Linked DNA regions of Homo sapiens: region 1 is linked to region 2. Evidence: fine-mapped expression QTL. A gene starts in region 2. The other region holds a variant in brackets. All regions are shown on one strand. Distances are from middle to middle.

Region 1 (5,383 bases), 49 kb after region 2:
GCTACAGGGGGCGGGGTGGGCCTTGGTTTGCTCAGTCCCCATTAAGCCAATGTTGGGGCAGGCAAAGACGGGATGAGATGAGAGAGGCTCCACCGTGCAAGCGTGAGGGCAGATCCTGCCTTTCTTTATGACGTTAATATTTTGTTCATCATGGATTTTTTCCCATTGACTTTTACATTTAAAAACATTTCACAGCTGGGTGCAGTGGCTCATGACTGTCATTCCAACACTTTGTGAAGCCAAGGTGGGTGAACTGATTGAGGCCTGGGCAATACAGAGAGACCCCATCTATACAAAAAACATATATAAATTAGCCAGGCATATGTATGCCTGTAGTCCCAGCTAATCTGGACTCTGAGGCTCTGGAGGATCCCTTGAGTCTGGGAGATGGAGGCTGCAGTGAGCCATGATTGTACCACTCCATTCCAGCCTGAGCAACAAAGTGAGGCTCTGCTTCAAAAATAAAAAAAAAAATTAAAAACACTAAAAAACTGACCAAAAAAAGACACAATATATATATATTTAAAAACCCACTTCATTTAAAATATAATTTATCTTGACTGCTGAGCTACTTTATGTCCCCTTAAATTTATTGTTCCCCATGAGTTCTCATTTGTTTCACTCTAGTCTCAGCCCCAGGAAAGAGGTTAATAGATGCAAGTGACAGATGTGAAAGATGGCGACAGAAAAGTCACCATCTCTTAAGGGTCCCCCAAGAAGATGTGGAGGTTTTAACCCCCAGTACCTTGGAATGTGACCTTATTTGGAAATAAGGTTATTGCAGATGTAATTAGTTAAGATGAAATCACACATGAGTAGGACACGCCCCTCATCCCACATGATTAGTGTCCTTATCAAAAGGGGAAATTTGGACACAGACATGCACCCAGGGAGAAGGCCATGTGAATATGAAGGCAGAGACTGGGGTGATGCTTCTATAAGAAAAGGAATCCCAAAGATCGCCAGCAAAGTGCCAGAAGCCACGAAATTAGCCGAGAATAGATTCTACCTCAGAGCCCACAATCCTGCAACAGCTTGATCTTGGACTTGGAGCCTCCAGAACTTTCAGACAATGAATGTCTGTTGTTGAAGCTGCTCAGTTCGTGGTTCTTTGTTATGGCAGTCCAAGGAAACTAACACACCATCCCTGGTCTTAAGGACAGACCGAGCACCTCTGTATCAACCAGCCCTACTTCAGCCCTGTAGCCAGGGAAGACCAAATCAGCTCTCAGCCCAGAGATAAGCACATCAACGCAAATACAGAGGCTATGAGGGCAGGGTGGGAGGGAAAAGCTTGCTCACTATGGGGAGGATGAGGCAGAGTTAGAACCAGGGCCATGATCACCATCAGAACACAACCACCTCATAAAAATGCCAGAGCCAGGCAGGTCAGGTGGACACACATCTCTGAGGATGGGTGGGTGATCAAAGCAAGTGGGAGCAAGAGAGAATGTAACATAGGACAGAAGAAATTTAGCATTGAGTAATCCTCTGGGACACAGCTGCTTCAACTTGAGACAGCCTATATGCATTTGACTGACTCTGTGCTTTTACAAGGCTCCTACTATGTGCTCAGCTCAGTAACAGTTGCTGTTATCAGAGTGTGTAAGAGTCAGGCATGGTGACTTATGCCTGTAATCCCAATGCTTTGGGAGGCTGAAGCAGGAGGATCACTTGAGGCCAGGGGTTCGAGACCAGCCTGGGCAACATAGCAAGATCCTATCAAGAAAGAAAGAGAAAGAGAGAGAGATAAAGAGAAAGAGGGTGAGAGAAAGAAAGAGAGAAGGAGAGAGAGGAAGGAAGGAGCTAGGGAGGGAGGGAGGGAGGGAGGAAGGAAGGAAGGAAGGAAGGAAGGAAGGAAGGAAGGAAGGAAGGAAAGAAGGGAGAGAGATAGAGAAACAGTGTGTGAGTATCAAAATGAGGGGGCAACACTGAACCCAAGCTAGATTGGGGCCATATCAGAACAAGAAGAAAAGGAGAGGTGTGAACAATGCTACTTCCTTGAGCTTGTCTTAAGGTTGGTCTATATGAAAAATTTGTCTTTGGTCTTTAAAAGGAAAAAAAAAAAAAACAGAAGAGATGGAGGAAGGAAGGAAAAAGAAGGAGAAAGGGAGAAAAGTCGTAAAAGCAGGAGAAAGAGTTGAAGGTCAGGTTCTTATTCCCCTGCATCTGATTTCGGACTTGGTCTCTACAGGAGCCAACTCCTGTTCACATTTCAT[T/C]TTATTTTATTTATTTTTGAGACAGGTTCTCACTCTGTTGCCCAGGCTGGAGTGCAGTGGTATGATCTTGGCCCACTGCGACCTCCACTTCCTTGGTTCAGGCAATTCTCATGCCTGAGCCTCCCAAATAGCTGGAATTACAGGTGCCTGCCACCACGCCTGGCTAATTGTTGTATTTTTTGTAGAGACGGGGTTTCACCATGTTGGCCAGGCTAGTATCGAACTGCTGGGCTTAATTGATCTGCCTGACTCGGCCTCCCAAAGTGCTGGGATTACAGGTGTGAGCCACCACTCCCAGCCCTGTCCACATTTTAGATTCTTTTTCTGCCCTCCTGCTTGCACCAACTCTGAGGAGTAGGTGGATCTCCTTTGTGAAAACCTAAGCCTCATCAGCCAAGGTTGCTGTGTTAAAGATCAGTTCCCTTGCAAAGCACGACTTTTATCTTCTCTTGTGCACTCTGGATTCCAACTGCCCATGCAACAGGAAGAACAGGACTGGCTTCCACCTCAGGACAGGAGGCCTGGCCTCTCCTCTCTGGTGTCAAGGGGATTCTGGCTGGCCCAAACAACTGCCCTCGCCATGGGCAAAGGAGCCTTGACTGGTGGGTGCTGGTCATTGATACCAGGCAAGAATGAGATTAGGCATCACATGCTAAAGTGAATTCATTAGAGTCACTAATTTAACTTTCAAAAATCTCTTTTTCTCATCATTTTAAGGTTCCTCATTAACTACTTGAGGCTTGTTGCCTTTGGTTCCAATTTTTATCTTTACAACCAAAATGGTCCCTCTCTGTCCTGCTCCCTTTCCTAGGTCACTGGAGGGTGTAACCAATAGACTTTGCCTGGTGCTACGGTAGCAGGGCCCTGCCTATCATTTATTTTGGAGGGAAGGACAAGAGATAAAATAGGCAGAAATCCAGAGAAGAGGAAATAAAAGGCCAAACATTAGCTCCAGCCTAAAGCACATGGTGCAATCCAGCTTCTAGAGAGTTCTGTGCTGGGAAACAAGGTATTGGCAGGCAATTAACAAAGCCCACTTTGTTCCTCACTTGGCATAGATGCCATGAATTAGAACCTGGGCTAAATGACAAAATAAACTACTCATGCTGGTGTGATTCCTCAATCACAATTGACAGCTATTATTTAAATGAACATAGAAACATTTTTAAACGTTTCTGAAAAGTTAGTCTAAAACAGTCATTTTTTAAAATTGGATCAATGGCATCAGAATTTCCATTTCTGCCCACCCCACCCACTACCTCCTGCCACCAGATCAACTGAACTAGAATCTCTGGAGGTGGGTTAAACACATTTGAACAAGAGTGCCAAGTGATTTTAATGCATCCTGAAGTTCGAGGTCTGGAATATCATGTAGCACACTGTAAAATGAATCGGCATTTTCTTGCCCATGAATACAACATTCCAGTAAGTCCTTTTTTTACTATTTCTCAATGAGCTTCTCTTCCTCCTGCCCCCACTTTTTGCCTCCTAAATTAAACAGCTTCTCTTCTCTCTGCCTCAAAGTCTCCCCTGATCCATAGCCTAGATCTGATATTTTAGAATAGATTCTAGTGTTCATAGGATTATTTGGGTGAAATAATTACCTAGAGCTCCTCAGAGTTAAAAAGCTTCACATCTACAAATACAGACTCAATACCTAAGAAGTTAAATTTAGTCAAATAGCATTGCTTTGTAAAACCAAGAGAGATTTATCATTATAAAGGAGGAATTCTCTTTGAACCAAAATGTTGGTGACCATTAAAAACATGGTGGGACAAAAGGTAGAGATCCCATCCACCTGTAAGTCAGTGATTCTCAACCACAGGCAATTTTGTCCCCCCAAGGACACTTGGTAATGTCTGGAGGCATTTTTGGTCATCACAACAGGGAGATGCTACTGGAATCCACTGGGCCGAAGGCAGGGATGTGACTCAACATTCTACATTGCCCAAGACAGCTCCTAAAACAAAGAATTTCATGTCAAGCGCCAGCGTTGAAAAACCCTGTCATAAATCATAGGGCTGTTTTTCTAAAAGGTCAACCGGACTTGCTAAGATTAAATGAGAACTGGGTGACATTAGAGATAAGAAGCAACAACAGAGACACTCAAGAAAGCCAGGAGCAGAAGCTAGAGGGCACTGCAGTGAAGGAACGAGAACTGTGGATTTTTTGGGTAGTCTGACACTTGGGAAAGGGAAAGGGAGCTCATACTGAGGACAAATGTGGCAGACACTGTTGGTTTGTACCAGAATTAATTCTTCCCATCTTTCAAAGTGATATGATTAGAGCTGGGCATATCACTGCCCAAGGCCACACTGCATATCCTGGCTACCTGGCAGCTGAGTATGACCACGTGACTAAGTTCTCATCAATGAAGGGTGAGCTGATGTCATGTATGCAACTTCCACCCTGAAAGGAAATTGCTGCCCTTCTTCCTAGTGAGCTGAAACACGGACTAACCCATAACAAAGCCTCGGCCAGCAAACTCTACTAAAGATGTAGAAAGTGGCTGGGTGTGGTGGCTCACGCCTGTAATCACAGCACTTTAGGAGGCCGAGGTGGGCGGATCACCTGTGGTTGGGTGTTTGAGACCAGCCTGGCCAACATGGTGAAACCCTGTCTCTACTGAAAATACAAAAATTAGCCAGACGTGGTGACACGTACCGGTAGTCCCAGCTACCTGGGAGGCTGAGGTGGGAGAATGACTTGAACCTGGGAGGCAGAGGTTGCAGTGAGCCGAGATCATGCAACTGCACTCCAGCCTGGGCCACAGAGCAAGACCCTGTCTCAAAAAATAAAAAATAATAAATAATAAAAGTTGCAGATAGTAAATACTTTTGGCTTTGGGGTCCATTTGGTTTGTTGCAACTACTCAACTCTACCTGTTAAAGCAACTGTAGACAGTATGTTAACAAATGAGTGTGGCTGGGTGCCAATAAAACTTTATTTGCAAAAACAATCTGGGAGCCATCATTTGTATATCTCTTCCCTAGGAAACGACAGAAGAACAAGATGAAAGGATCATGGTCCCTGATAAACTTAATAAAGTGAGATACCCCACCAACTCAAATCATTGTTATTAACATGAGACAAAAATGAACATCTCTATTTTTTTTTTTTTTTTTGAGATGGAGTTTTGTTCTTCTTGCCCAGGCTGGAGTGCA
Region 2 (5,383 bases):
GCAATTGAAGCCCATTACATCTTAATTTATATCTGGAGAGTTGGTAACAGCTGATTCCCACTCTATGTTTTTCACTGGCCTTCACATATTTGAAGATGTCGAGTAAGTAGGTTTTCAGCTTCTTCTTCTTTGGGTCATATACTCTGAAATCTTTGTAGATCCTTTTATCTTCCTTTTACTTTGTATTTGTCACCCTCTAAAAACAGATGTCAACAGCTTGTGGAGAGACAGAAGATATAGTCATGAAATGAGAGTCTTAGATCAAAATAACAATTATTTTGACATCTAGGGCACTTTATAGTATGCAAAACATTTTCACCTGCCTTATTTCTGAATCCCCACAACTACCCAATGGCATCAATAAGACAAACGTTTATTCCTATTTATTAAAGTTAAGCTCCTTTCTCAGGATCATACTTATTAATGGCTGAGCTGAAACTAGAAAACAAACCTCCTTGAATTGCAAGTATATGGACAAGGACAAAAAGAAAATTGAAAAGAATAAAATCAGCTGATGTGTCTGAATAGCAGATTATTTTCTCTCCAATGTTCCTTGATTGTAATTTTGCCTTTTCAGTAAACAAAATCAGAACTTTTTTTTTAAAGCTGAGTCTTTATAAAGTGTTTGGGCAGGGTTGGAATATTTTGAAGTATGTAATTTTAAAATAAATAACTCAGATTGTAGGCACAACAGAAAACTACACAGTGAATGTTCTTCTCGCTACTTTCATTGACTTTGATTTTTCTGGTTCTAGAAAAATGGTAGAAAATTGGTTGTAGTCAGAATTAGAAATAAAAATATATTTAGTACCATTGTGTTTGAGGTAAAATATTTGCATGCATGTATACTTAAATGCCAAATACAAGTGCGTCACATTGCATGAATAATGGAAGTGTTAGACCCTAAAGATGCCCCAAGATTTTTTGAATACCACAGAATATCTCCATGGACCAGCCACTAGAATGAAAGTTCCATCTTTGTCCAGTTCTATGGTAGCAACAGAACATAGCAAGTTAAGGCATAATGGCCTCTGCTCTCTATAATAGGTATGGGCTCACGTTTATTTTCTATGTCAGGCCTTCTAGTGGGTATAATAAAGGTAGACACAATCTTTATTTCTATATGCTGACTAGACGCAAGGGAGAAGTAGTGACCCAGAAAAGACGAGTGGTGGGGGTGGAGTAGATGGTGAATAAGGTTTACAGTGATTCCTACTTAGTAAAGTTCAGTCACATTCTCAGGAGTGCATCTGTCTACAGCTGAGCTGAAACTAGAAGGCGAACAGTGAATAGAACAAGGATCAGAGGCTGTGCCACTGACACAGCAAACACTCCCATTTGTCCCTACAGTGTTCCACAAAAAACAAACCTGAAAAACTGTATCCAAGTCTCTGGTGGGGGCCAGGGGTCCAAAAATCTGCATATTTAACCAGTATCCCAGGCAATTGGGGGCACACTAAAATATCTGTGTTCCTGCATGTCACCTGCTCAACAACTCAGAAGGTTACAAAAAGTAATCCAAGACTCAGGGAGGTTCTGTCAAACAGTGCCTGGGAGAACCAAACTTGAGCCCTTCTGATGCCAGAAATAGACTGTGTTCTTCACTGCACATTGCCACAACCTGGTGGCAAGTCTTTACAATTCTCTGAGCCTTGGCCTCCTCTTGTGTAAAGTGAGAGGTTAGGATTTCTTTTGTGTTTGGCATTTGATGATGACCCGAGGTGAAAGAGTTGTCTGCATCCAAGACAGCTGGATACCAAGGTGCCATTTTGGATCAGAGAAACTTGCACAAACTCTGGGCCAAATGGTTTTACAGTGGTCTCTGACTCTCTCAGACTAATTTAAGATGTATCCCAGAACGATTAGCCTATGGCCCATTTATATCAAGATCCAGCTGAGTTCTAATTGGCACGAGCAACCGCTGGCATGGTACACACAAGTGCTTGCAAAGGTGATTGCCAACAGCCACCCAGCTGCAGCGGAGAGGATGTGGGCACAAACCCTTCAGATTAGGGTGTGTCACTTGAGACCAGGCCAGAGCCATCAAAGCACCCTGTTTTCCTCCACCCTTTCCGACTGCCCCAAGACTGGCACAGGGTTTAGTAATAGCGAAAGTAACACTTGCCCATGTAGGGACCAACAGTCTTTTCTAGGTTGAGTTTTCTAACTTGAGTGAGGTGCCAGACAGAAAGATGCCACCAGAGAGATTTGGCTCCCCAATGTGCCATGCAGTAAAGCCTGGCCCTTATGGCCTGCCGGACAGCATTACAACAAGTGACAAGCGCACATTTACTGTCATGGCCTGACTGAAAATCCTTGTCGTCTTAATTTGTCATTCCGAAATATATGAAAACACCTACTTAGGCCACAAAGCCTTCTTTTTTGCCTAATGGTGTTCTAGAAATAAACTGGCAGTGAAGGATACTGCATTGTTACGGGGATGTTGTCAGTTGGTTTCGTTTATCCATTTATCAATGCCATTTTGCAAGAAATAGTCTCTGCTTTAGAGATGACACTTCATACATAACAGGGAGGGCGTGAGTTTTCCTTAACTGCCAGAACATTACATAATATAACATGTCACCAGGCCTCAAATGCAGCAGCAAAGACTCTGTATATAGGCGACTCCAGAGCCAACATGTGCTTAGCCAAAAAAAATGATTCAATGCCTTCAGAATGTGGGATGCAAAATGAGATTCTGTAGGAGTCAGGGGTCAATGGTGGGAGAGTGCAAGAAACAGATCTGACAGCTCCCAAGTTCGGGGCAATCTGTTCTCAGTTAACTAATAGTTGAGAGGGATCGCTGAAGGATACAACATTGATACCCCAAAGCGCTCCAATCAGTTTCACTATTTGGCCTGATTTTATGTGTCTGTTTTCCATTCCTCCCTAACTCCTTCTTGGGCTGCAGAATGGGCCTCATTTGCAGGTTTGGTTACCAGTTATCAACTTCCACTGTGATAAAGGACAATTAGGATACAACATTGATACCCCAAAGCACTCCAATCAGTTTCACTATTTGGCCTGATTTTATGTGTCTGTTTCCTATCCCTCCCTAACTCCTTCTTGGGCTGCAGAATGGGCCTCACTTGCAGGTTTGGTTATCAGTTATCAACTTCCACTGGGATAAACGACAATTAGGAGGTGGTGGGGACAGGAGTCCTGCCTGTGAAGTCCCAGTTAATCACCAAGCCATACAACCTCCCCTAAAGAGTCAAGAGCGGATGCAGGCTGTTGATGTTTTTCATTCAAAGCTCGCAATGCACCGTTCTGAAAACTCTCCAGCGTAGAATTCAGGAACCCTGAGTTTTCTATCTCTGTCTAGTTCTGGACTGAATGGGCTCAAGTCATCTAGTTAACCTCTCTGGATTTCAGTCTTCTGAAAAGTGAAGCTAAGAGATCTAGCATTCTGCAGAAAAGTACTGGAGATGACTCAGGACTGAAAATGATCATGAAGCCCCTTTGCAAATATCAAAGTGGTGATGAAGCAGTCATGAACTTTGACCAGAAGCCGTGTTTTGTGGGATTGCCACTTTAATCGCTCCTGTTCATCATTAGGACTGCAGCCAGAGTGTGGAAGGAGGTGAGTGCTTTGGTGGTCTTGCTAGGTTGCGGAGCGTGGGCTTTTGTGGATATGCAACAGTGCCCTCTATTGGCATCCGGCATATTTTAAGCCACTGGAGCTGATAAGTCCATTTTCCTCTGCCCTGTGTCTTTGTACTTCTTAGTGGAGGCCCAGAGAGCTTGTGTGTAAGGGGCTGTGACCAGACTGCTCAGCAAGGGCTTTTGCTTCGCAGAGTGCTGCGCGTACATTAGAAAGCTGCTGAGTGGAAATCTTATTCCCTGGGATTTTAAACAGCCACATTTCCTGGCGTTTGACATCAATGGGACATTTAGCAAATGGAGTGCCAGATGGAGCTCCTGGCTCTATTTTCTGTAAGACACTTGAGAGTCAGAACCCTCCCAATGTTTGCGCTTGATAGGCTTGCCCACCGTAGGGCTGGCCACGGCTCAGTGGATGCGGGGCATTCTGCGGGCTTGCAACGCGGGGAGAGCGGGGACACACAGGATAGCACGTGGCAGCTCGGCCTGCATTGCTACACACAAAAGCATTTCAAGTTCCAGCATCCTTGGTAATTCACTTTAACACTCAGTCACTCACTTCTCTTATGTTATCTGACTTCCTTACAAGCCACATGCAAGAAAACAAATAGTAATTGACTCACACTTTCACAAGCACTGTCTCTCCTGAACTTCTCAAGGCAGTAAGCAAGGCAAACCTCGGTGCCACTGTTTTGGAGATCAAGAAATGGAAGCTTAGATTGTTGAGGGACTTGCCCACAGTTCCATGGTATCACCTTATAACTTATAGAAAAAGCAATGAAATCTCAGATTTTTTCTAATATCTAAGCAGTGCTGTCTTCCCCACCCCCCACCCCCTTTTGTTTTTTGAGACGGAGTCTCACTCTGTCTCCCAGGATGGAGTATAATGGCATGGTCTCGGCTTGCTGCAACCTCCACCTCCCAGGTTCAAGGGGTTCTCCCACCTCAGCCTCCCTAGTAGCTGGGACTACAGACACAGGCCACCACACCCAGCTAATTTTTGTATTTTTAGTAGAGACATGGTTTCACTATGTTGGCCAGGCTGGTCTCAAACTCCTGACCTCGTGATCCACCCGCCTCAGCTTCCCAAAGTGCTGGGGTTACAGGCGTGAGCCACCACTCCCGGCCTCTCTTCCCCCTTTCTATGTGAACACATGTACTTTTATTAAATCATTTTGATTATTTTCTATTAATAATTCACATTTATATGAATCACAGAATTCAAGATTACTATATAGTCCCTAGAAATTGCTTTATTACTCACTATATTTATGAAGGCTCCTAGTAAATCTCCATGATGATATTTGGAGAGTCTCTGATATATTCAAAGTTGTCCTGTTTTTATACTGAAGGCAGCCGACACTGATCCAGTCAATGAAATCGTGATTCTCTAAGAATGAATATTTGGATTTTTTTTTTCTTTTCATAAGGTTGCGTGTCTTTGGTGTTCAGGCAGGTAGATGCCACATTGCTTTATTAAATTGGTGTAATGGAGCATGGATTTTTTTATATTGTCATATGCAGTGATAATCTAAAATTCTAGAGCTATGATTCATCTCTGAGGATGTTTTACTCATATTGCACAATAACCAAAAAGTATTTAGACCTCAAACAGCGGGTTAACTGGGCATGGCCCTGTCCTTGTACAGTTTGCATGCTGTTATTTTTACAGATGTTCTCCTCAGTTCCCACCTTAATTCAGGTCAGGGGAGTTAATGGGAAATGAAACTGCATCTCCTCTACTTCCCTCCTTCCTGCACGGTTGACTTGAATTATAAAC

What was found. PIP is the estimated chance that this variant, and not a neighbour inherited with it, causes the effect.
Region 1: its variant is fine-mapped to the expression of IATPR in whole blood (INTERVAL, PIP above 0.99).

The regions. Positions count from the first base shown.
Region 1 is chr10:33,065,937-33,071,319 of GRCh38, reverse strand. The region is part of intron 2 of ITGB1-DT (ITGB1 divergent transcript); the gene reads right to left. Among named protein-coding and RNA genes, the nearest start is that of IATPR, 48 kb to the left of the region's middle. The variant T/C (reference allele first, on the strand shown) is at 2,220.
Region 2 is chr10:33,114,671-33,120,053 of GRCh38, reverse strand. IATPR (ITGB1 adjacent tumor promoting lncRNA) reads left to right here and starts at 3,247. Exons shown (of 3, transcript NR_160030.1): 1 at 3,247-3,583.